Linked DNA regions of Homo sapiens. The protein of the gene in region 6 purifies or fractionates together with the protein of the main gene of each other region. This does not show direct contact. Each region holds a gene or a part of one and is shown on either strand. Other genes may lie near its edges.

Region 1 (3,500 bases), on a different chromosome or scaffold from region 6:
TCTGCCTCCCAAAGTGTTGGGATTACAGACATGAGCCACTGCACCAGGACCAATAAATGAATTCTTAATGAGACTTGGACCTGGAAATCTCTAATATTTTATGTCTGGTGACATATATAGACTATATTCTTGGTGCTTTTAGTTTAGAATCATTATTTTATTCTGACTCTTATACTACTAGATGGTTATTGCTATGTGATTTAGTAGATAAACTTTTAAATGACACTGCTACATAAAGAAACACTAAAACAATAAAGATAATTTAATATTTGTTGTTAAAAAAAAACTTTTTGAAATGTGTGTTGTTTACATACATAAACAGAAAGGCATATTAAATATCCCAGCATTCCTTCATACATCCTTATGGCTGGTTGCTACTGCCTGTGTTTTTATTCACACAGCTTCCTTTATATCAGTGGTCCCCAACCTTTTTGACACCAGCGACCAGTTTTGTGGAAGACAGTTTTTCTGTGGACCCAGAAGTTGGGGCAGGGTATGGTGGAGAGATGGTTTTGGGATGAAACTTTTCCATCTCAGATCATCAAGCATTAGATTCTCATAAGGAGTGCACAACTTAGATCCCTTGTATTTGCAGTTCATGATAGAGTTTGCAGTCCTTTGAGAATCTAATGCCAACGCTGATCTGACAGGAGGCAGAGCCCAGGCAGTAATGCTCCCTTAACACACTGCGCACCTCCTGCCATGCGTCTGGGTTCCTAACAGGCCAGGGACCTGTACAGGTTTGGGCCTGGGGGTTTGGGACCCCTGTTTTAGATGACAAAAATATATAAAAGTATCATACCCCATACATTTTCCTTATTCAGTCGGATATTGGAAATCATTACGCCTGGTATCAGCTATTCTGGATATTCTATTTTGATGCTTCATCAAAACTCTACAAATGTTAGTTTCTTAAAGATAGTTGCATTATTGATTCTGAAACTGCATCAGTGAATCTGTTGTTACATTAAAATTCACTGGTCTATCTTGGACTTTTTACCCAGTGGTCTGTCTTGGACTTTTTACCCAGGTGTGATTTTGTAACATTCATTGGTTATTTAGAAAATATGGTTCACTGAATTACACAGATCTCCCAAATGTTGAAACACTTCATTATGTAATATTTTAAAAATCACATTTATTAATATCACATCTAATCTCATTTAAAAAAATCTAAGTGTTGGGAATCAGTTAAGCTCACAGTGGTGGGTACTTATCTTCCAAAATTCTAATTTTTCTCTTGAAAGCTTGGTTTTTATCCTTGACAGCAAATATCGTTAAGTATTTTCCTTGAAATAACATGTAAATGTTTGGCAAATACCCAAATCTGAATAATCATAGGTTGTCTGTTTTTCTTTCAAGAATAAAATGGCATTCCATGAAAAATAAATTGATTTTTAAACTCACAACTTAAATAATTGTACAGGTCCTTTCCTTGAGATAACCATTGTGGTTTGGTACACAACAAAAATGCTTTATATGCAAATCTCATTTTGTCACACAGGATACTAGACAGATGTGTACTTGATGGGAATTTAATAAAATTAATTTTTCTGTGCCATTGGTAAAAATTATTTTTATTTTATTTTATTTTATTTTATTTTATTTTATTTTATTTTATTTTACTGCCAGTGTATGGTGGTGAGGCATACAGTGCACCTTGTACTTACTGAGCACTAATAGTACTTTTTGGTGCCATTAGTTTGGTACCAAGGTGCTAGCAGTTTTACACACCATTGCTTTTGTACCATTAGTGCAATGTTGCTATTATTAAAAGGCTAGAAAAGTGTTTATTATGTTATTTTGAAAAATAGTTGTTTTGAAAAATAACTAGTGTTGTTATTAAAAAAAAAAGTAGTTTTGACTACGTGGGACCTCTGGAAAGACCATTGGGATTTTGATTGACATGATGTTAAATTTATAATTAATTGGAGAGAGCTACACATTTACAATATTGAGTTTTCCTATATAGGAACATAGTATGTTCTTTCATTTATTCAATTATTCACTAAAATTTTATATTTTCTTATAAATATTGCGTATTTTAAGTTTATTCTGAAGTATTTTCAGCTTTTTGCCATTATAAATAGGACTTTTTTGAGGTATATTTTCTAATTGGTTATTGTAGGTATAGGAAAAGTTGATTTTTGTGTGTTTACCTTGTTTACAAATAAAAAGTTTTTCAATTGAATATATATATATATTTTTTTCCACTGAGACACAGTCTTATTCTGTCGCCCAGGCTGGAGTACAGTGGTGTCATGGCAGCTCACTGCAACCTCCACCTCCTGGGTTCAAGTGATTCTCTTGCCACAGCCTCCCAAGTAGCTGGGATTATAGGCGCACGCCACCATGACTGGCTATTTTTTCTATTTTTAGTGGAGACAGAGTTTCACTGTGTTTGCCAGGCTGGTTTTGAATTCCTGGCCTCAAGTGATCCTCTTGCCACGGCCTCCCAAAGTGCTGGGATTACAGGCTTGAGCTACTGCTCCTGGCTCTCTTGAATTTTTTTAGGTAGACAGGTCATCTTTAAATTACAATTCGTTTTTCTTAATTTGTTTGTTTGTTTCCTTATTGCACTGGTTGAGACCTCTAATTAGTGACAAATAGTAGAGATATTGGACATCTTTGTCTTGTTCTGACTTGAGTGGGAATATTTAGTATTTTCCCAGTAGGTTTAATTTTTAAGGTTTTTGATGCTTTTTAAAAAAATCTAAGGAAATTTTTTATTGCCTTATATTGCTTATATATTGAGGGTTTAAAAATAATAATGTATTTAAGTCATCAAATGTGTTTTTTCTTTTATTTTGTTAACGTGGTAGATTATATTAATATAGCTCCTATTATTTATTGAACCATCATCTTTCCATTCCTGGAATGAGATCTGTTTGGTTACAATGAAAATCTGATAGAATTTTTTGCAACTTTTCTCCTTTTAATTTGTATTTAAATATGTATTCATAGCTGTGATTGGCCTTAAGTCTTTTTTCTTCTGATTTGGATTTCAGGGTTGTGCCACTGATAAATAATTTCAGTCTCTTTCAGTGTTCTGATGTAGACTAAATTCTAAAGTAATTTTTTGCTGCTTGTACATTTGATAAAATTTACCTGTTAAATCATCTAATTCTGGTGGCATTTATTTGGGGGTAGACATGTGCACATTTTTAATTTATCTTACAGTGTTTTTATTAACTAAGGAAATCTTATGGTGGCATGGGTCATCTGTTTCGTTTTACTGTTGTAGCCTTAGCACCATGCTAGTCATATAAAAGATGCCCAGAAAATTCGTTGAATGAATCCTTATAAGGTTGAATAGTGCTTTTACTTTGCTAAAGTTTTATTTGAACTGTGTTAATATTTTTCTTCTTCTTTTTGTTTTTTCTCCTTAAAGTTCCACTCTTGTCCTGGGGACCCAGCTTTAACTTTAGCATCTGGTATGTTGAACTTAGTGGCATTGATGATCCTGATATAGTACAACCTTGTCTCAACTGGTATAGCAA
Region 2 (3,500 bases), about 120 Mb from region 6:
GACTAAAAACACACAGGGATGTATGTTTAGAGTAGCACCAAGTACCACTGAGTAGGTATGAAAGAGTGGAAGAAGACCACTGAAACCTTCGGGAGGAAAGCACAGCTTCTCACTTTGTCATGCATTGCCTCAGCCAGAAGGCTTTGGTCAGCCAGACTAAGGAAGGTGGGACATCCTCTATGTGGGAATTAGTGTTTAAGATCTCAAGGGACAGTATTCTAATTCCTGAGATATGTCTTAAGGCAGCATCCCAGAGGTGGGGACCTGATGCTGAAGGGGAGGAAGGGAGGCTCCTGTCACCCTTTATGACATGTTCTGCCTGACCTGCACTCTTCTGTTTTACCCCCATCTCTCCTCCTCCGCTTCTCCCTTGGCATCCCACAGCTCTAAAGTCTTTCTGGAAATTGACAACCGCCAGTGTGTTCAAGACTCAGACCACTGCTTCAAGAACACGGATGCAGCAGCAGCTCTCCTGGCCTCTCACGCCATACAGGGGACCCTGTCATACCCTCTTGTGTCTGTCGTCAGTGAGTGGCACTGGTGTAAAGGGGAAAGGTGGCGGGGGAAGAGTGTCAATTGGGGGAACAATTTTCATTATGTAGCCCTCTATTTTTTCAGGACTGTTGAGGTCAAAGTTGCCCTCTAAATGAATCTAATGCTGACATTGAGAGGTTAATGTTTTATTCAGCACTTTCCCTGTCTCTGTGGACTTTCAGGTGAATCCCTGACTCCAGAACGCACTCAGCTCCTCTATCTCCTTGCTGTTGCTGTTGTCATCATTCTGTTTATTATTCTGCTGGGGGTAATCATGGCAAAACGAAAGCGTAAGCATGGCTCTCTCTGGCTGCCTGAAGGTTTCACTCTTCGCCGAGATGCAAGCAATCACAAGCGTCGTGAGCCAGTGGGACAGGATGCTGTGGGGCTGAAGTAAGAGGCATTGCCAATAAGCCACTATTCACAGTATAAGTAGGGATGACTAGAAAAGCATATCTTGTTGAATCATGATTTTAAATTCTAAGCTCTGGGCATTTACTCACATTGACCATGATTCTAAATGCCTTGTGAGTGACTGAAACCACAGTCAGAGCGTGGGTGCATCTATTCTGTGTATATTATCACAATGCCGCCCAGCTTCTGTGTTGAGGTGCCCTTTTGTTGTAAGCTCACGATCAATGGGAAGGGAAAGGATGAATGCCAAGGGAATGTCACCAAAAATACTGCCCATCTTCTCTGGGCCAAGACCCTGCAAAATTGTAATATAGCCACGGGAGTGTGTCATGGTGGAAAGTGTTGAAAACCACTGTATTAGTTTATGACTGCCATTCTTATTTTTTCTTTTTATAATCATATTAGAAATCTCTCAGTGCAAGTCTCAGAAGCTAACCTAATTGGTACTGGAACAAGTGAACACTGGGTCGATGATGAAGGGCCCCAGCCAAAGAAAGTAAAGGTGAGGTGGCCATGGTAGAACCACCATTGTCAGCCATTATCTGGTTACATTTCAAATTTCTGTCCTTTAGCTCCAGAGTGTCCTGAATGGGAGTAAAGAGTGATAGTCTTGATGTCTTACCCAGACAATAACTATCCTAGGTTCTCCTAAACAGCAGGAATCCTTAGGACGTAAATGACCTTGGGTTACCTATATATGCTCTTCAAGAATAACTCTTTAAAAATACTAAGCACATCTGTTTCCTTTAGTGTTATGCTGGCAGTAGTCAAGTCAGGAATGGTGTGTGTAGATGGCAATTCCTTCATGGCCACATCTCTTCCTTATCCTTTATGGGCACTTCTTCTATAAGAGAAGATGAAATTAAGCAGTGGAAGAAAGCCAGTTATCATTGACATTGGCAAAATGAAAGCCAGTGATCATGGCAAAACGTTGACATTGGAGGCTCCATACCTTGAGCCCAGGAAACTAAAGCCATATAAAAGCAAGTGGTAGATTGGGCTGAGACTGACATGAAAAAGCAGACCATCCATCCACAGCTGTGCATGGCTGGGAGCTGGTGGAGCATGATGGTTAAGAAGATTGCTTTAGTTAATATCAGAACTGGATTCAAATCCAAAACTCTGCCGCTTAGTAGCTGGCAAGTTACTTAACCTCTTTGTAATTATCCTTCCTTGTAAAATGCGGATAATAATAACCCTTTCCTCTGTGAGTTGTTGTGTTGGCATATGTGCCTTATCTACTTTCCTGTCATGTACTAGGTATTCAGTAAAGGGTAGCTGCTTTTAAATTATCATGATTATTATTATTGAATAGTCTTTCCTGAGTGCTTACTACATGTTGGGTGCTATGTTGAGTACAAGGAAACAACCTTGAACAAGGCTTATTTTCCCTTCTTGAGAAGCTTACAGCCTTGTGGTGGAGATGGCCATGTAGTGCTGTGTAAGCATTTAACACATGATCAGTTAAGCAGAGGTAAGCAGAGTATGCTTTTTAGGGCCAACAAGAAGAATTAAAGTTTACTTTCTAGTGGAGGGTAGGAAAAGTGAGAATTGGGTGCTCTGGAGATCTAAAGGCTAAAGCCTAGAGTTTGGGATTGGGGGAGGGAGTTGTCTAGATGATGCAGGAAAGGTAAGCAGGAGCCACATCACGAGAGCAGTGGGAAGCCAAGGCTGAGGTAATCCTCTGGAGGGGTGGAGGAGTAGGAAGAGAGAAAACAATGGGAGATAAGCAGCGGTGGTGGAGGCTCTGGACACCTTCTGATTAGCAGTTTCTGGTGGTGGCCAGATTGATAGGGAGCATTGTTTTCACCTTTCAGGCTGAAGATGAGGCCTTACTCTCAGAAGAAGATGACCCCATTGATCGACGGCCATGGACACAGCAGCACCTTGAAGCTGCAGACATCCGTAGGACACCATCGCTGGCTCTCACCCCTCCTCAGGCAGAGCAGGAGGTGGATGTGTTAGATGTGAATGTCCGTGGCCCAGGTCAGCACCGGGCCTCTTCCCCTCTTCACTGGGCTGTGTCTGCCCATGGTTCCACATTGTTGTCCCTGTGTTTGCCCTGTCCAGTCATAAACCCCTTCCCAATTTCACAGACTCTAAATCAGCTCGAGGAAATGAATGCTTAAGGAATGTAGCCACAAAGAAATTATCAGCTCAGAAAGGGAAGGATTTCACATTGCTTCATGTACAGTGTGTTGAGACTAAACAGGCTGATAAAATGGGTTAGATTGTAGTGGGATAGAAAAATAATATCCCAAAGCAGAGGATAGTTAGTATCTTATGCATGTATTAATTGTTCTATTAATATTAGATATTTTTAAATGTCCAATTAAAATAACAGCACTTAAACTTGAACAGAAAAACGTGTTTAGAGAAGAGCCCCCAGCTTAAAAAGACTTGTACTTTCCCATTATTCTTTACAGAAATGATACTATCAGAGGAAAAGGTGGCAAATGTGAAACTAATAACCAGTTACTACAAGAAGTACAGGGAATTCTTTGCCCCTAAGAATAACTTTAGTCAAATAGAGCTGTTTCAACCATAGGGTT
Region 3 (3,500 bases), on a different chromosome or scaffold from region 6:
TTTGGCGAGAATGGCAGCCAGGCGGGTCAGGGTCTCTTCATAGCCTGCAAGGGTGGGAAGTGAGACGTGTCGGCTGGGAGTGGGGGCTCCAGAGGCAGGCATGTCAGCAGGGTGGGTGGACTTGGGTAGCAGGCTCTAGAGCTGGCTCCCAAGGCCAGCCTGGACCCAGGGTGGCATCTGGGGACATCGGGCAAAGCATTCATTGGTGGCTGTGCAAGGGCTAAGGCACAGGCTCACTGTGAAGGGATGACAGGCCCTGGCAGGAGCCCTGACCTGGGCTCAAACCCATCTCAGCACACACACCTGATGAGCAGTCAAAGCTCCTTGGGCACTCACAGCTCTGTCTTTGAAGACAAAGCCTGCACTGAGGCCTGTGGCTGGGCAGGGGGCAGGCTAGGGGCCTGACAGCTCACTGCCTGATCCAGACATACACTGCCACGCCCAGCCTGGAATCAGCAGGCTGAGAGGCCCAGGTTCGGATGTGGACCCTAGCAGGGTCCACCCCCTGCTGTGATTTACCAAGACAAACCATTCTGCCCCTGACCAACTGCTACGCTTTGTGACCAGTGCCAGGGAGTCAAGGTGCAAGGCCAGCTGGCTCCTGGACCATGGCAGTTGCTCATAGCACTAGGAAGGAAGTGAAAGCCAAGAGGTCTACACCCACCGTGTTCCATCTTGTCTGTTTTCCTTTGCTAGGGAGCTGTTGGCTCTGTGGCTGCAGGTCCCAGGGCAGGGTGCAGACGTTTGTTTGCTGCAGGGTGAACCACAGAGGAAGCTCCTCCCCTCCCCGCCCCCCACAGAAGTGTGTTGCTGGGCCACAGAGGTCTCAGACCAGGGCTCCTAGGGCTCACACTAGAGACCCCTTTTCTGCTTCTGCCTCAGCCTGAATGGTTCCATCACCTGGGAGCTCCTCCATGCTGTGCACGGGACCAAAGTAATTCTTGAGAGCACTGTAGCTGTTGATGGCCACGCTCAGGTAGAACTCGGGCATGAAGGCAAAGAGAGACCCTGTGCGATCACCGTGCTCAATGGTCCGCAGGCAGACGCGCAGCAGCCAGTAGATGTCCAGCATCTTCTCCTGCAGGAGGCACACGGGGTGCTGCTGGGTTGCGCACCAGTGGGGTCTTGGGGGCATGTCCTGGCCTGGGGATCAGGAAAGGCCTCCCCAGGCCTACGACAGCACAACTGAGACCTGGATTTCAGGAAGCATGAGCAGTAGCTCAAGCAGGGCAATCAAGTCCTCAGCAGGCAAGAGGGACGCACTCAGCCTGGAGGGCGCATTACTGTGACCCAGGCCAGAACTCTGGTCAGCATATTTGTAAGCAAGTTTTTTTTTTTTTTGAGATGGAGTCACCCAGGCTGGAGTGCAGTGACGCCCTCTTGGCTCACTGGAAACCTCCGCCTCCCAAGTTCAAGGGATTGTCTTGCCTCAGCCTCCCGAGTAGCTGGGACTACAGGTATGTGATACCGCGCTCGGCTAATTTTTGTATTTTTAGTAGAGATGGGGTTTCGCCATGTTGGCCAGGCTGGTCTTGAACTCCTGACCTCAGGTGATCTGCCTGCCTCAGCCTGTAAGCAAGTTTTAGGCAAGAGGGTGCTGTGACTGGAAGTCTGTGTGGAAAAGTGGAGTACAAGGTGTGTGAAGGGCCCAAGAGAGCTGGCGATGGTAAGCAGACAGGCAGAAATTTGATCTGGAGTGCAAAGGAGAAGGTGGTGGGAAAGCAGGGGGCAGTGTGACTGGTGGAACAGAGGTCACAGGAAACAGACAAAACCTGCTGAGGGCCCTGCTCCCCACAATGTGGTTTCCACAAAGTCTATGTCAGGGTCTCACAAAGGAGCCCAGGCAAGAATGAGGCCTCAGGCCCCAGCCCAGACCCACAGCACCCGTGTGTCTTGGAGTGCGGTCACAGCACCTGGGCTTCACACCAGCTCTCTGATGTGCCCTAAAGCCCAAGGAACTGAGGAGAAGATGTAAGCAAGAGGTTAGGGGAGGGCCTAGGCGCAAACCTAGGCAGCGATGATCCTGCTGCTACAGAAGGCCAGCGAAGACTGTGTCTGGTGAGGGGCTGGCAATGGCCCCATCAGAGCTAAGGTATCAATGCAAAGGAGATGGAAATGTGCCGGCCGGATTGAGATGGGGGCAGACAGAGACCCTGGTGAGACTATTTCAGAGATGGGGAAGAGCCTGTGCTGGAGGGAGATGAAGGGGAAGATGTAGCAGCTAAGACAGAGAAAGAAGGAGAGAGCATAACTTTTGGGCACATATAGCGTCAAGGCTGGAATGCAGTGGCACAATCACAGCTCACTGTAACCTGGAACTCCTGGGCTCATGTGATCCTCCTACAGGTATGTGATACCACGCCCTGCTAATTTTTGTATTTTTAGGAGAGATGGGGTTTCGCCATGTTGGCCAGGCTGGTCTTGAACTCCTGACCTCAGAGTAGCTGGGACTACAGGTATGTGTCACCATGCCCCGCTAATTAAATTTTGTTTTTTTTGTAGAGATGGGTTGCCCAGGCTGGTCATGAACTCTTGGCTTCAAGTGATCCTCCCGCTTCAGCCTCCCAAAGTGCTGGTTTACAGGAGTGAATCTCTCCATTAATAATGGGATTAGAAAGACACAGGTGAGTTAGTGCTGAAGATGCAGAGAATGAAGGCAGTTCAACATAATAAAGACCATATATGAAAAGCCTCCATCTAACATCACACTCAGTGGTAACAGACTATAATCCCTCCCTCCCTCAGACCAAGAACAAGACAAGTGTGCCACTTTCTCTACTTCTGCTCAGCACAGTCCTGGAAATCCCAGCCAGAGCAACTAAGCATGAAAAAGAAAGGAAACCACACTGGAAAGGATAAAGTAAAATTATCTCTGTTCACAGACATGATTTTATAAGTAGAAAATCCTAAAGATACACACACACACACAAAACCCCAACTAGGATTAATAAATAAATTCAGCAAAATTATAGGATATGGCCAGGCGCGGTTGCTGAAGCCTGTAATCCCAGCACTTTGGGAGGCCGAGGCAGGCGGATCACCTAAGGTCAGGAGTTTGAGACCAGCCTGACCAACAAGGTGAAACCCCATCTCTACTAAAAATACAAAAATTAGCCGGGCGTGGTGGCGTATGCCTATAGTCCCAGCTACTCAGGAGGCCGAGGTGGAAGAATCGCTTGAACCTGGGAGGCAGAGGTTGCAGTGAGCCAAAATCTTGCCACTGCACTCCAGCCTGTGCCACAGAGCGAGACTCCCTCTCAAAACAAAACAAACAAACCAACAAACAAAAGATATGCAAATGGCCAATAAGTGCTTGTAAAGGTACTATTTGTCATAATGTCACTAATCATTAGCAAAATGCAGAACCACAATAAGGTACCATATCCTACCCATTAGGATTTACTATTAAAAAAGTAGAAATTGCCGGGTGTGGTGGCTCATGCCTATAATCCCCGCACTTTGGGAGGCCGAGGCAGGAGGATTCCTTGAACCCAGGAGTT
Region 4 (3,500 bases), on a different chromosome or scaffold from region 6:
AGCTGTCCTGTACGCCCGCCACGTGCTTGCATCCCTGCTCGCCGAGTGGCCTAGCCACGTGCCAGTGAGCGAGGACATCCTGGAGCTCAGTGGCCCTGCCCATATGACCTACATTTTGGATATGTTCATGCAGCTGGAAGAAAAGCATGAGTGGGAGAAGGTAGTTATGCAGACTGAGCTTGTGCTCACCCACCAGGTTCTTCCTCTGCCCCACAGGCTTCCTCCAGTGAGTGCTTCCTGGAGCGAGGCTACCTGTGTGGCTGTGCAGCTCCCTGACAGGTGTGAATGCAGCAAAGGTAGGGTCACTGTATCCTCTCCCAAGGATTGGGCTAGTGAGGAACTCAGGGGCCCTGAGCGCGATTTCCAGCTGAACCAGAAAGCTTTGTCGCCATCTTCCCAGTTTCCAAGTGCAGAAATCTTGAGGCACATTCGGTAGCTCCTTTTTGATCCTGTCCCTCACCCACCTTCACACACACACACGCAGTCCATGAGGAAGTTCATTTGGCCTCTCAGCCTTGCTTTGTCCATCTGAGAACACCACCAGACCTCGAGGTCTTTTCCCGGCCTTGCAGCCCTGCAGGTGCTGGCAGGCTTGCTCTAGCATATCTATCTTTCGGAAGGGACAGAGGGAGCCACCCTGCCTCTACTAGGCCCTTGCATAGGCGTGTCCTCCCACAGTTCTTGCCACCTAGAGCTCCCAACCCTGCACCTCACTCCAGGCATCGATTACATTGTGTGGTCATTATTTATCCATAGGCCAATCCACCTGCTTGGCTGGGGACTCCTTCAAGGACCAGGACCCTTTATGATTGGTTCAGTTAGTTCTTTCAGACCACCTCTAAGTAGCATCATTCTGAAAGGACTGCAGTGTCCTGATTGACACCAAGAGCCTGGTCAAGTGAGAGGTGGCTGGTGGAGTTGGTTTTGGGTGGTGGAGTCACAGAGGCTCGTCCTAGGTCTAAGATGATGCCAGCACCTTTGGGTGGAGCTTGGGTTGAAGTAAACTGTCCCTTCTTCCTGATGCCACTTGCAGGCCCTGACCTTATCTGTCTGCTTCCCACCAGATCCTGCAGAAAGTGCTCCAGGGCTGCCGAGAGGACATGCTGGGGACCATGGCCCTGGCTGCATGCCAGTTCATGGAGGAGCCAGGAATGGAGGTGCAAGTGAGGGAGTCGAAACACCCGTATAACAACAACACCAACTTCGAGGTAAGCCTGGGGCCGGCAGGCCCCATAAGAGCGACTGAGCCGCAGAGACCTCGTCAGCCCCTCCGTGCTCAGCCCCTCCATGCTCAGCCCCTCTGTGGCTCTCTCCCGCTGGACAGCAGAGACCTGTCCAGGAAAGTGCTTCCTTGAACAAACTGCAGTCTGCCTCCCTGAGGCCAGGGATTCTGTACAAGCAAGTCTTCTCTTCTCCGGACTTTTCTTGTTTTAATAGAAGAAAATGGGCCACCTAGCCCTGGAGGAGAGCTTTACTTTCCCTGCGGCAGGCTCCTCAGAGTGAGTCCTTGGCTTCACAGTGAGACAGTGAGTCTGAATGTGGTCCAGGTTGGACCCTCACTCTTCAGCTGCCACCTCATGACCTGCCCCCACCGTGGATACTACAGCCCCTTTTTAAAATTTCCCAGAACTGAATCAGAGTCTCATCTTTTCCATCCTTAACTTTGTGCCTGGGCAGGGAGGTAGGCATTTTGATGAGGCAGGAATGGGGCAGCCTCCGTTATTCTCATTGACTTAAGGCCATGTAGTCCCTTTAGCACTTTTTTTTGAGACGGAGTCTCACTCTGTCGCCCAGGCTGCAGTGCAGTGGTGTGATCTCGGCTCACTGCAACCTCCACCTCCCGAATTCAAGTGATTCTCATGCCTCAGCCTCCCTAGTAGCAGGAATAAAGGCACCTGCCACCATGCCCAGCTAATTTTTGTATTTTTAGTAGAGACGGGGTTTCACCATATTGGCCAGGCTGGTCTCTAACTCCTGACCTCAGGTGATCCACCCGCCTTGGCCTCCCAGAGTGCTGGGATTACAGGCGTGAGCCACCTCACCTGGCCCCCATTAGCGCTTTTAAAAATGTTGGAGAGAAAACTGAAATGTTGGAGTTGCCCAGGCATCTACTTCTGAGTGGAAGGCACCTGCAGCAGCGAAGGTGGATGATGAAAACCGATTTAGAACTGGGTTATTGGCCAGCTGAGATTTTGTTTTTCAGAAGTATAACCTGTCTTTCTTCCAAGTCTCTTCTCTTGTCATGTTCCTGGGCTCCAGCCCCACTCCCTTGGTCCCATACAGGCACATGTGGTCAGCCACCAGGTTCGATCCCAAAGAGGTCTTGTCTTCTCCACTGACCCTGGACACCCGTTGCCCTTCTCTGGGGTTCCTTTTGCTGCTACTTTCTGATTTCCTCACTTTTGCCTCAGCCCAGCCTTGCTCCACACCAGCTGTCAGTGATGCTACACTGTGCAAGCCTCACCAAAGCTTTCCAGGGTTTTCCCTGTTGTCCAGAGTCTGAGTGCCTCATTTTCATGCCCAGGGCCTTCAGTGTCTGCCCCTGCCAGTCTCTCTGGAGTCAGGTCTTGTCCCTGTTCCTGCTTCCCAAGCATACGTGCCCATGTAGCACACCCTTTACTCCAAACACGCCAAGCTCCTTGCCATTCCCTGAACATGCTAGACCTTCACAGGGCTGTTACCCTGTCTGAAATGCACCCCATGCACTCAGGTCCACCTTGTCTCCCACTCCCGCCTTCTCCTAACAGGGTCCTCCTGTCCTCTTCACTCTTCACAGCAGCCTGACACTCTTTCTCTGGGGCCCCGTGTTGCCTGCCCCGCTGTGCCTCCCTCGCACCATATTTGCAGTCTGTGCATGCTCCTCGCCCTAGCTGGACTCTGCACTCCTGGAGGCCAGGGCTGTGGTTCACTCATTCTCACACACCCGGGTCCAGCCACAGGACTCGGCATGGGACAGCTGCAGTCAGTGTCTAGTGAGCAGCATCGACAGATGTGTTCTCCATTTCCCCTCCCTAGGATAAAGTTCACATTCCTGGTGCCATCTACCTCTCAATCAAATTCGACTCTCAGTGCAACACAGAGGAGGGCTGTGACGAGTTAGCCATGTCCAGCAGCAGTGACTTCCAGCAAGACCGACACAGCTTCAGCGGGTCTCAGCAGAAGTGGAAAGATTTTGAACTTCCAGGTAGTGAAACAAATACTCGATTAGATAGGTTCTTCACAGGCAGTGTTTAAACTTAATATTGAGAAGGGAACTTACTGGAGAATGTTGAAACCCAACACCACTGCTGCCATTCCCTGTTGCTTCAGTTCCTGATGGGCCTCTGATCCTTGTGTGCCTAGGAGACACTCTGTATTACCGCTTCACCTCCGACATGAGCAACACCGAGTGGGGCTACAGATTCACCGTGACGGCCGGACACCTGGGGCGGTTCCAGACAGGTGTGTGCTCTGGGCTTTGCGTTCACACCATCTGCCTGCCAGGGACACTCCATGGCTGT
Region 5 (3,500 bases), on a different chromosome or scaffold from region 6:
CCCAAGTCTTCCATCACTCACCGTCCTTTGGCATCTCGGCTGTTCACAATCTTGGCACCCAGAGCTCCCAGTAGCATCTCTGTGGTGCTGTCTTGGTTATTAATCCTAGAGGAAGAGGGAGGAGGGGTCATCAGGAAGGACAAGGGAAGTAGACTACCTGTCCTAAGCTCAAGTCATGGGCCCTCGCGAGAAGGGCTGATGCAGCAGAAGGGACTTACACTGCACAGTGCAAAGGAGTGAAGGGGTTTCCTTCCAGGTACGAAAACGGGCTGTGTTCAAGTAACAACTCCAGACAATCTTCATGTCCTGGGCACGAGGAAGGAAGAGTAGTGATGGAGAAAAACGGCAAGGTTCCCTGTCTGTCCTGTGTCTTGACACTCCATTCCACTTCCAGATTCAGATCAACCCAGGTCCCCCCCAACAACCCACCTGTCCCCCTCTACACACACTCCAACACATGCTCCTGTGCCTGTGGAGGCCCCAGTCTAGTACCAGTGTAGGAGGCCCAGTGCATGGGCGAGTATCCGCTGTAATCCACCCCGGCATCCAGGGGATCTGTGGAAAGGGCAGCCTGCAGCAGGGTCCGCAGTACTGCAGTGTGGCCACAGGCTGAGGCCAGGTGAATGGGCGTGCGGCCCTTAAAGTCTCGGCACAGCACAAATGCGTCGTGGTCCAGCAGGGCAGCCAGGCAGTCCTCACAGCCAGTCACTGCCTGTGAGTAACATGGGGGTGTGAGGGGGATGAAAAGCTCCTCCTTTTCCACTGGCCTGTTGCTGGAGTCTGGCTCAGGAGTAAGAACCACTTCCAGGGCTCCAATCCTTGTCTTTTTTTTTTTTTTTTTTTTTTTGGAGTCGGAGTCTTGCTCTGTCGCCCAGGCTGGAGTGCAGTGGCATAATCTCGGCTCACTGCAACCTCTGCCTCCCCGGTTCAAGCGATTCTCCTGCCTCAGCCTCCCAAGTAGCTGGGATTACAGGCAGGTGCCACCATGCCCGGCCAATTTTTTTGTATTTTTAGTAGAGACAGGGTTTCACCACGTTAGCCAGGATGGTCTTGATCTCCTCACCTCGTGATCCGCCTGCCTCGGCCTCCCAAAGTGCTGGGATTACAGGCATGAGCCACTGGCCTCAATCCTTGTCTTTACAACAATAATTCTTTCTTTTTTTGAGACGGAGTCTCACTCTGTCACCCAGGCTGGAGTGCAATGGTGCGATCTTGGCTCACTGCAACCTCTGCCTCCCAGGTTCCAGCAATTCTCCTGTCTCAGCCTCCCAAGTAGCTGGGATTATAGGCATGCACCACCATGCCCAATTAATTTTTGTATTTTTAGTAGAGGCGAAGTTTCACCATGTTGGCCAGGCTGGTCTCAAACTCCTGACTTCAGGTGATCTGCCCGCCTTGGCCTTCCAAAGTGCTGGGATTACAGACGTGAGCCACCATGCCCGGCCCTTTACAACAACAATTCTAAGTATTAGGGACCCACATCTCCCTCCTTGACTCTCTCTATGCCAGCAGACAATCAGGATACTAAGAGTTAATACTGGAGCTCTGGAGTTAATACTGGAAAGACTAAATGGAGAGAAGGAGACTAAGGGATCAAAAAATCTTATGGGAGGAGGAGGCAGCTTAGGACAGGTGGTCACGGAAGAGGATCTAGGTTGTGGCGACATTATGCGATGGGTTGGGGCCAGCAGGGTATCCCAGGTAGAGTCTGGGTGGTGAGCACTCAGTTGTACGTGATTACAAAGCACAGATATTGGCCAGGCACAGTGGCTCACGCCTGTAATCCCAACCCTTTGGGAGGCCAAGGCGGGTGGATCTCATCATCAGGAGATTGAGACTACCCTGGCTAACACGGTGAAACCCTGTCTCTACTAAAAATACAAAAATTAGCCAGGCGTGGTGGCAGGCGCCTGTAATCCCAGCTACTCGGGAGGCTGAGGCAGGAGAATTGCTTGAACCCAGGAGGCGGAGGTTGCAGTGAGCCGAGATCACGCCACTGCACTCCAGCCTGGGTGACAGAGCGAGACTCTATCTCAATAATAATAATAATAATAATAATAATAATAATAATAATAATAATAATAATAATAAACAAAGCACAGATATCAGGGAAATCAGCTGGGGACGTCAGGAACTCATCCTGGAGCAAGCACAAAGCTCAATAAAATCCTGGGCACAGCGTGGGTCTGGTGGCTCATGCCTGTAATCCCAGCACTTCGGGAGGCCAAGGTGGGGGGATCACTTGAACCCAGGAGTTCAAGACCAGCTTGGGCAAGATGGTAAGACCCCCATATCTACAAAAAATACAAAAATTAGCTGGGCATGATGGCATGTGCCTACAGTTTCAGCTACTTAGGAGGCTGAGGTGCGAGAATCACCTGAGCCCAGGAAGTCAAGGCTGCAGTGAGCTGTGATAGTGTCACTGCACTCCAACCTGGGCAATGGGAGTGAGACCCTGTCTCAAAAAAAAAAAAAAAAAAGAAAAAGAAAAAAGACGGCACAAAATCCTGGCTTGCCTCCTAGACAATTGGATTCCCTACTGCTGGTGAGTCCCATGCTCCCACACTGAGGCCCATGTGCAAACAATCCCCCCTAGAAGCTCACTCACCCCGCGGTGGAGGGCAGTGCGGCCCCGGAGGTCAGCAGCATCAGCTGTGGATCCTTTCTCTAGCAGCAGATGTACACAGTCCACATGGCCATTCATGATGGCCAGCATCAGTGGGGTCCTACAGAAGGGCAGGAGGAGGAGTGAGGATCCCGCAAGGACTGGAAAACCTGCACCCCACCCTGGCCCACACTCACTGTCCATAGGCATCCATGACATCTGTGATGTCAGCTCGTTCCCCACTGTCGATCAGCAAGTGCAGGGAGTCAGTGTGGCCAGAGGCAGCTAGGGGAAAGGGACCCCGTGTCAGGGCAGGGCCAGGAGGAAGAAGGGAGGCAAGGTCAAGCCTAAAGGACTTGGGGTCAATGTTACAGAAAGACCTGGGCCAGGGAGAAATCTCTGAGGATAGGAAGCTATGAATCAGGGCTTGAAGTCTCCATTCTCCTCACCCTACTCCACTTTCCAGCCCCATTCCCATCCAGGAGGGATCTGGCATGGCAAGGGTAGGGCAGCAGCCTAAAGTGGGCACTAACCAGCAGCGTGCAGGGGTGTCCACTTGCGCTTGCGCTCCTTGATGAGGGCAGAGGCGCCGTGGGCTGTAAGCACCTCCACACACTCAGTAGAGCCGCGCTCCGTGGCCAGGAAGAGTGCGGTCCGGCCCTTGTGGTCCCTTACGTCCAGATTCACCAGCGTCTCCGCCAGCGTCTTCAAGGCTTCACAGTGACCGTTGTAGGCCTGGCAAGGTGCAGGCAACCAGTGCACACAGCTCGGGACCTTCCCTGCTCCTCCCTTCCCCTTCTCTGCTCTTGGGGTCCCTGGGAAGCTCAAGGTCTTAGTCCTTGACAAGCTCCTTGGGCCCCTTAAGGCTTCCTACCCTGCACTGTGCTTATCCCCT
Region 6 (4,190 bases):
AGCTGATTTCAGGCAGGCCCATTCTGAGAATAAGGCTGCATTTCACAATTCCTGTAATGTGCCCACGTAAGAAAGAAGGCAGGTAGTCTGTTTGGTGATAGTATATTTCAAGAACTAATTGTTATTTCCTGTGAATTTGCAACCCAATGTGCTGTGAGTTGAGTTGGAACTAGAATATCAAATACCAAATAGCATACAAAAGGGATAACACTGCAAAAAAAAAATTCAAGTCAAAAATCAAAACAGAGCTCAGAGATTTCAGAAGCAATGGCTTCTTGTCAAGAATAACTGTCATTAAAATTTCCATAAGCACCAGTGAAATTGATTTTGGGGAAAAGTCTAAGGGAGGGTCTGTTTTATAAGACACACTGAAACTTTATTTTATTCTGAATTTCCCCAGCCAAGTTTGTAAGATCTCAGATTTTTCTTGGGCCCTTTCCCTGCCAAGGGGCCAAAGGTTTATCTCTATTGACACATACAGATAAAAAATTTTCATCCAGGAACCTCTATCAGCAGAGTCTGAATAGTCGTCTTTGGCTGGTGAATCACACTAAGGGAGTCTCAGTCCTGAGATGATCAGTGGTGAGAAGTTCAAAAAATAATGAAAAGAGCAAGCACTTAGGCGTCACAATACGCTTCTGGTATAACGCACCAAGCCGATGGAGCACAAGAATTGGTCTGGCGTCATTGTTTTATGTTCTCTGGATGTTGAAGAGTCTGATTTGCATTAGAAACCTCTGCATTCAATAAACAAAAATCAGGATAATAATGACCAAAGTACTATTTGGAACAGAAAACAAATTCAAGCAATGGGTGTTTTGCACTGAATTCATTCAAGATTTTATTAGTTAAGCTCTCACTTAGGTTATTAGGCTCAGCTTGCTTTTTATTTCACTGGCCTCAGTTACTGCAAACAAAAGGAGCCTGGTGTGTGTGTGTGTGTGTGTGTGTGTGTGTGTGTAAGCGCACGTGTATGAGAATGTCAGACATATCACACACAGGCTTTCTACATTCTTCACATTGGAAACCCATCAGCAAAAGGAAGAAGATCTGAAGGGAATGAGTGTTTTTTTTTTGTTTTTTGTTTTTTTCTGGTTTAGGGGATGGAGGGAGAATTTCTCTACATAAACAAGAAGGTTAGAATTGGAAGTCTGCTAAAAAAAATGTTAGAGCTGACCACAGGGTTGTAAATCCACTGACTGGAAGGAGGAAAAGAGAAACATTGCAAGCGACTGAAGTGTGTGGTGTGGCTGCAATGTTTGTGGGTTAGATGAGAAACAAGCGCTGAGTGAAACAGAGAAGGGGGGTGGCTGGTGTGATTTGTTTGGTGTTCAGAGCCAATAGAAATCCCAGACTCTGATAATATCCCCATGCAGCGCCGAGAGGATTCAGAGCTAAGTCTCCGGGCTCCTTTCACATCTGCAGGAGCAGCCAGCCTGGGACCGCGCGGCGCGGGGCGCGCTCTCGCCTCTCCTGCACCCTCAGCCGGCGCGCTTCTCTTATGGGCGTCTGCTGCAGTCTGGCTGCGGTCGAACTGAAAGCGGCGGCGGGAGACCAAACTTAGACCCCGCTGTGGACTAGAGAACTCAGAGAAGGCAGAGGGAGAGGGAGAGAGAGAGAGAGAAGGGACCCGAGGAGGAGGCTTCCATCACGTCATTGCAGGTACGCAGCTTGTCACGACTAACGTGACACAGACACGGTTTCTGATTTCTACCTTCACCAGGCACTTAGAATGAATTGACGTTGTTTGTTCCGTGGCTGGTCAGGACCGAAAGCCCTGAGTGGACGTCTCGCCGGTTTCACCCCGGGTAATTCAAGCTGTTGGCGTGTGTCTGGGGGCCACAAGGTTTATTCACCTATTGAATTATGCGTGGGTGTAACATAAGGACCTTCAAACTTGACCGTGATCGCTCTTTCTTTCTCTTTTAAATAACGTCAATACCAATATGTTGTCATCCCACCAATAAATACCTCTTGGTGACCGCCATTCTAATCATGACTATAGCGAGGCAAACACCATCCAATTGTTAGAAAGCGGGCTACGAACCTCTCCCACCTACCTACCAGGTTAATATCCTCCCTACAGGAATAGGAACCACAGCGGACTTCGGCAGAGTTTTGATTTTTTAAAGCATATGGCCAAGGTGCACCCGCCTCATGAGGGAAATATCACTATTATCACTACGCTGTGGTTGAAGGAGAAGAGAGAAGGGAGGTAGTTATTTTTTAACGTGATTGTCAGTGATCCTTCCTGTGTACCTGACTTATTTCTACATTGTCTTACGAGTTTAAAAATGCATTTGTATTCTGCACGCCAGGCACGTTCAGTTCCAGGATCTCACATATTACTACATTAAAAAGTCATGAATTGGAACTATCTAGTAGATGTGATAGTTGTAAGAAAATATTGATGTTTGATTTTATTTTATTTGATCCTAAAACTCATAAACTTCTATTTCTTTTTTTTTTTTATTTTGAGGTGTGGGTTTTGTTAAAAAAATCTATTTCCTGAGATTTTATCATGTTTGATTTGAAATTTTAAAGATAGTTATATAACTCCCCACCCCTTGATGACTTGTGATTAAATTAGCATTGCTTAATGAGTTCAGTCTTTCCTGGGAAAAGCCAGAGGGGACTGCAAGAAGTCAGTTAAAAAATTGGTCTTGCTTTGCAGTCTTCAAGGGCTGGCTGGTATTCATGTGGCTCTGAATCCCTATGAAAAGCGCTTTTTCTGCAGTGGAACAGATTGGGACTCCAGTACAGCCAGAGAATGGCTCTGCAGCAGGTGCAGGGGCAATCAAATACCTTACCTTTCGTCTAAACAGCACTCTTCCCAGTGGAGTCTTAGTCGATCATATCCAAACCATTCACTGATAATTCGCAATCGACTCACCATTCAGCCGTGCTTAGCTTTCAAGGTAGCCTTTGTCCCAAGACATGTGCCCGACCAAGGAAGATAAGAAAGTTATAAGAAAGGTATTTGTGTTGTATATCACAGTGGAGAATTTATATCGACCTTTTTTTGTTTGTTTGTTTTTTGTTTCTTATCAGATGAACATGTTCTTTCTGTCATTAAAGGAAATGCATGCTTAGCTCTACCATAGAGTCAGGAAAACTTCATAGTTTTTGCCCATCGACTGATCTGAATGATTTAACTGGGTGCTTTTTGAAATCGTGTCAAAGTATAGACATGGCAAGTGAATATTATATTTGGGAGAAGGCATTTTAACTTTATAGATAAATTTTTTTTCCTTTTACATCAGAAAGAAACTGTAAAGAACTGATCTGTGCAAATAAATATAAGTTAATCGACCCAACTACATTCTATTGGTAAAGAGTTGTTTTGTATGATTGTGAGCATTTGTCAATCTTTTATAAATAAAATAGCTGCAATAAGTTGGGACCTATTTCTGTCTTATCTTTCTAACTCTAAAGCAATGTTGGGTGTGTTGGTAGCAACTTTGTGAGTGTGAGACGGATTATATTCACTTTGTATAGACTAGGAGACACTGATGGCTTTTCAAAGATAAATATAAACAATGCTGTGATTATTCATTGTTTTTTGCTATCATTCTTCACCGAGAGAGGTAATCAACAGTTCATTCTCTATGAATCTTAGTAGAGCCAGCCAGAGCTTTACATACCCTCGAGTTATAAGTTTGGTAAAGTTTAAACAAGGTACATGCCTTTAAATCTCTTTAAAGTAAACATCTCTTTTTCTAATGCAAAGGAATGGTATTAGACTCTCAGTTCTTATTGATATGGAGAGGATTGGCCTGTCTGGGTCAAGGGCAGACACTGAGAGACTGCAGAGGCACAGGCACTCAACAGATTAGTTCAGCCACTTTTGTACTTCAGTGTTGCTACAGCAATTGCCCCTGTGCAACGTGCCAGGTTGCAGGCATGTTCTCAGTATCAGGGTCCTTCAAATATCTACGGACAAAAAAGAATTATTTCAACCAGGGAAAACGTGCCCAGCACTCGGCTTAAATGGGTCACACAAGACATTGTTTTGAAGGACAAGGTGTTCAATTAAAAATTAGACCTATGGTGCCATCTTCTTCTTGGATTAGCTGCTTCTTGATAGTTCTTTTGTTTCTAATAATATTAGGTATAATAGGCCTAATAATGTCTAGAATTAATTTTGATCACATGTCAGGCTAAAATGTGGTCCTCAGACTCAACACTGA
Region 7 (3,500 bases), on a different chromosome or scaffold from region 6:
ATCTGGGCTGCTGTAATAAAATACCTTAGACTGGAAGCCAGGCACATTGCTCATGCCTCTAACCTCAGCATTTAGGAGGCTGAGATGGGAGGATTGCTTGAGCCCAGGAGTTCGAGACCAGCCTGGGCAACATAGTGAGACCTCATCTTTACAAAAAAATTTAATTTTAATTTGTTTTTCACCCGTGACACAGCCCTCAGGAGGTCCTGAGAACATATGTCTCTCGTCTTTGCAAAAAATTGTTTTAATTAGCCGGGCGTGGTGGCACACATCCCTAGTCCCAGCTACTCAGGAGGCTGAGGTGAGAGGATAACTTGAGCCCAGGAGTTTGACGCTATAGTGATCCAAGATTGCACCACTACGCTTCAGCCTGGGTGACAGAGCAAGACCCTGTCTCAAAAAAACAAAACAGACTGGGCCATTGATAAACAACAGAGATGAGCTGCTCATAGTTGTAGAGGGTGGGAAGTCCCATATCACGGTGCTAGCAGATTCCGTGTCTAGTGAGGGCCCATCTCTCATAGATAGCACCTTTTAGGTATCTGCACAGGGTGGCAAGGACAAACAAGCTCCCCCTCTTTTATACGGGCACAGTTCGTATTCATGAGGACAGAGCCCTCCTGACTGAATCAACTCCCGAAGGCCCCACTTTTTTTTTTTTTTTTTTTTTTGGTGAGACGGAGATTTACTCTTGTTGCCCAGGCTGGAGTGCAGTGGTGCGATCTTGACTCACCGCATCCTCCGCCTCCCAGGTTCAAGCGATTCTCCTGCCTCAGCCTCCCAAGTAGCTGGGATTACAGGCATGTGTCAGCATGCCAGGCTAATTTTGTATTTTTAGTAGAGACGGGGTTTCACTGTGTTGCCCAGGCTGATCTCGAACTCCTGATCTCAGGTAATCCGCCTGTCTCTGCCTCCCAAAGTGCTGGGATTACAGGCGTGAGCCACTGCACCCAGCCCTTTTTAAATTTTTGATCAACAACTTCTTTTTTATTTTGAGATGGAGTCTTGCTCTGTTGCCCAGCCTAGAGTGCAGTGGCGTGATCTTGGCTCGCTGCAACTTCCACCTCCTAGGTTCAAGCAATTCTGCCTCAGCCTACCTAATAGCTGGGATTACAGGCGTGCACCACTGCGCCCAGCTAATTTTTGTATTTTTAGTAGAGATGGGGTTTCACCATATTGGCCAGGCTAGTCTCCAACTCCTGACCTCAGGTGATCCGCCCACCTCGGCCTCCCAAAGTGCTGAGATTACAGGCGTGAACCACCATACCTGGCTGAAAGGCCTAACTTTTTTTTTTTTTTTAGACGGAGTCTTGCTCTGTCACCAGGCTGGAGTGCATTGGCCCGATCTCGGCTCACCGCAACCTTCGCCTCCTGAGTTCAAGCGATTCTCCTGCCTCAGCCTCCCGAGTAGCTGGGATTACAGGCACGTACCACTGTGCCTGGCTAATTTTTTGTATTTTTAGTAGAGATGGGGTTTCACCATGTTAGCCAGGATGGTCTCTATCTCCTGACCTCGTGACCTCGTGATCCGCCCTCCTCAGCCTCCCAAAGTGCTGGGGTTACAGGCGTGAGTCACCGTGCCCAGCCAGCCCCACTTCTTAATACCACTACATTGGAGATAGGCTTTAGCATGTGAATTTTGGGAAGAGGCAAACATTCAGACCATAGCATCTGTCGACGGCCATGTCACAGCTTCCCTGGAAAGACATCAGGAAAGGACTGTGCCTTTGACAGTCTCTCACAGGCCCATGCTGGCTGGGGAATTCCTCAGCTCTCTTCCCTAAGAGCTGACAGTTACTACTCCCAGGAATCATCCTGCCAGCCCCCTTCCTGCAGATGGCAGGATCCACCGGCAGTGTGAGCAATTCGTCAGGTAACACTGCGGTCTCAATAGGCCCCTGACTGCTGGCTACCCACCTTGGCAGCTGTCAAAGGAGGTCGTCTGTCTGCCCAGCCACAGATAATGCTTCTGAGCCCTATTCCTGTTTGAGCCACGTTAATGTGGAACAAAACAGGGAGTTAGGTTAGGAGGAATGGAAGTAATTCTTTGTTCATTTTTTCCACGAAGGACTGTGAGCACCCACTGTGTACCTGGCCAGGTCCTAGGGGTAGAGGACACAACAGGGATCTACACAGGCAAACTCCCTGCCCCAGGGAAACTGACATGAAGCCCCAAAAAATGCCCAGTTTGGCAGGGGTGGTGGCTCGCACCTGTAGTCCGAGCACTTTGGGAGGCCAAGGCAGGAGGACCACTTGAGCCCAGGAGTTTGAGACCAGCCTGGGCAACATTAGGGAGACCTCGTCTCTATTACTAAAAAATGCACAAATAAATAATTTTTTTTTAGAAAAAGAAAAATGGCCAGCTTGCTAAATAAATCATAGGAACTCCCAAGAAGGATAAGTCAAGCAGGGAGAATCAAGCCAGGGAGTTAGTGTCGGGAAGGGCTTTGTTGGTCAGACGCAGTGGCTCATGCCTATAATCGCAGGGTTTTGTGAGGCTGTGGCAGGAGGAACACTCAGCTGGGAGTTGGAGACCAGCCCAGGCAATATAGTGAGATCACGTCTCTACCAAAAAAAAAAAAAAAAAAAAGCATACATATACATATACTTTTTTTTTTTTTTTTTTTTTTTTTTTTTCGGTTAACTGGATGGGCCGGGTGCCGTGGCTCACGCCTGTAATCCCAGCACTTTGGGAGGTGGGCGGATCACTTGAGGTCAGGAGTTCAAGACCAGCCTGGCCAACATGGTGAAACCCCATCTCTACTAAAAATAGAAAAATTAGCCAGGCATGGTGGTGGTTACCTTTAATCCCAGCTACTCAGGAGGCTGAGACAGGAGAATCGCTTGAACGATTCTTGCAGTGAGCCGAGATCCCACCACTGCACTCCAGCCTGGGCGACAGAGCGAGACTCTGCCTCAAAAAAAAAAAGAAAAAAAAAAATTAGCTGGATGTAGCTCCTGTGGTCCCAGCTATTTGGGAAGCTGAGGTGGGAGGATTGCTTGAGCCCAGGAGTTTGAGGCTGAAGTGAGCTATGATGGTGCCACTGTACTCCAGCCTGGGTGACAGAGCAAGGCCCTGTCTCCAAAAGCAAAAGAGTAGAGAAAGGGCTTTATGTGACCAGGGAGAGTATGAAGAGCTATGGCTGTCCCATTCCCATTCTAGTAGGTCCGAGAGCAAGCAGGGCCAGACTGCCAGGGGCCCCAATAAAGCATTGTAGGGGCCCAGGCAGTGTCACTTGGGGCCAAGGTAGTACAAAGTGGTTTTGAAGGAGTTGAAGATGAATCCAAGGATCTGAATGAGGAGGGCCAGAGCTGGTGAAGCTACGGCATTCACAGGTTTTGGGAAGGACTGGAGCCAGGTCCTGAAATTGTTGAGTGGAGGTGTCTGGGGTGTGTGCGAGTCTGGCATTCACAGGGAAGTCCGGGCCAAAGACTCCAGTGGGGGAGGCATCAGTGAATAGATGGTGCTTCAGGCCTGTCTTAGTCAGCTCAAGCTGCCA

The links.
Region 1: the proteins of GREM2 (region 6) and MKLN1 purify together in Homo sapiens (affinity purification with mass spectrometry; one large-scale study listed by BioGRID and IntAct). This does not show direct contact.
Region 2: the proteins of GREM2 (region 6) and NOTCH2 purify together in Homo sapiens (affinity purification with mass spectrometry; one large-scale study listed by BioGRID and IntAct). This does not show direct contact.
Region 3: the proteins of GREM2 (region 6) and RNF123 purify together in Homo sapiens (affinity purification with mass spectrometry; one large-scale study listed by BioGRID and IntAct). This does not show direct contact.
Region 4: the proteins of GREM2 (region 6) and ZZEF1 purify together in Homo sapiens (co-immunoprecipitation; 2 studies listed by BioGRID and IntAct, with this or other methods). This does not show direct contact.
Region 5: the proteins of GREM2 (region 6) and ANKRD52 purify together in Homo sapiens (affinity purification with mass spectrometry; one large-scale study listed by BioGRID and IntAct). This does not show direct contact.
Region 7: the proteins of GREM2 (region 6) and NACC1 purify together in Homo sapiens (affinity purification with mass spectrometry; one large-scale study listed by BioGRID and IntAct). This does not show direct contact.

Annotation. Positions count from the first base shown.
Region 1 is NC_000007.14:131,393,876-131,397,375, forward strand, and holds part of MKLN1 (muskelin), read left to right. Parts: intron 1-3,391; coding exon 3,392-3,500. UniProt on the Homo sapiens protein: Component of the CTLH E3 ubiquitin-protein ligase complex that selectively accepts ubiquitin from UBE2H and mediates ubiquitination and subsequent proteasomal degradation of the transcription factor HBP1.
Region 2 is NC_000001.11:119,919,663-119,923,162, reverse strand, and holds part of NOTCH2 (neurogenic locus notch homolog protein 2 isoform 1 preproprotein), read left to right. Parts: intron 1-384; coding exon 385-527; intron 528-716; coding exon 717-927; intron 928-1,353; coding exon 1,354-1,450; intron 1,451-2,765; coding exon 2,766-2,934; intron 2,935-3,500. UniProt on the Homo sapiens protein: Functions as a receptor for membrane-bound ligands Jagged-1 (JAG1), Jagged-2 (JAG2) and Delta-1 (DLL1) to regulate cell-fate determination.
Region 3 is NC_000003.12:49,710,057-49,713,556, reverse strand, and holds part of RNF123 (E3 ubiquitin-protein ligase RNF123), read right to left. Parts: intron 1,079-3,500; coding exon 901-1,078; exon of another isoform or gene 665-900; intron 45-664; coding exon 1-44. UniProt on the Homo sapiens protein: Catalytic subunit of the KPC complex that acts as E3 ubiquitin-protein ligase. Promotes the ubiquitination and proteasome-mediated degradation of CDKN1B which is the cyclin-dependent kinase inhibitor at the G0-G1 transition of the cell cycle.
Region 4 is NC_000017.11:4,014,031-4,017,530, reverse strand, and holds part of ZZEF1 (zinc finger ZZ-type and EF-hand domain-containing protein 1), read left to right. Parts: coding exon 1-160; intron 161-756; exon of another isoform or gene 757-898; intron 899-1,064; coding exon 1,065-1,208; intron 1,209-3,015; coding exon 3,016-3,184; intron 3,185-3,342; coding exon 3,343-3,441; intron 3,442-3,500. UniProt on the Homo sapiens protein: Histone H3 reader which may act as a transcriptional coactivator for KLF6 and KLF9 transcription factors.
Region 5 is NC_000012.12:56,244,885-56,248,384, forward strand, and holds part of ANKRD52 (serine/threonine-protein phosphatase 6 regulatory ankyrin repeat subunit C), read right to left. Parts: intron 3,341-3,500; coding exon 3,139-3,340; intron 2,891-3,138; coding exon 2,803-2,890; intron 2,727-2,802; coding exon 2,609-2,726; intron 713-2,608; coding exon 493-712; intron 307-492; coding exon 219-306; intron 106-218; coding exon 22-105; intron 1-21. UniProt on the Homo sapiens protein: Putative regulatory subunit of protein phosphatase 6 (PP6) that may be involved in the recognition of phosphoprotein substrates.
Region 6 is NC_000001.11:240,609,356-240,613,545, reverse strand, and holds the start of GREM2 (gremlin-2 precursor), read left to right. Parts: upstream 1-1,390; 5' UTR 1,391-1,662; intron 1,663-4,190. UniProt on the Homo sapiens protein: Cytokine that inhibits the activity of BMP2 and BMP4 in a dose-dependent manner, and thereby modulates signaling by BMP family members. Contributes to the regulation of embryonic morphogenesis via BMP family members.
Region 7 is NC_000019.10:13,124,764-13,128,263, forward strand, and holds part of NACC1 (nucleus accumbens-associated protein 1), read left to right. Parts: intron 1-3,500. UniProt on the Homo sapiens protein: Functions as a transcriptional repressor. Seems to function as a transcriptional corepressor in neuronal cells through recruitment of HDAC3 and HDAC4. Contributes to tumor progression, and tumor cell proliferation and survival.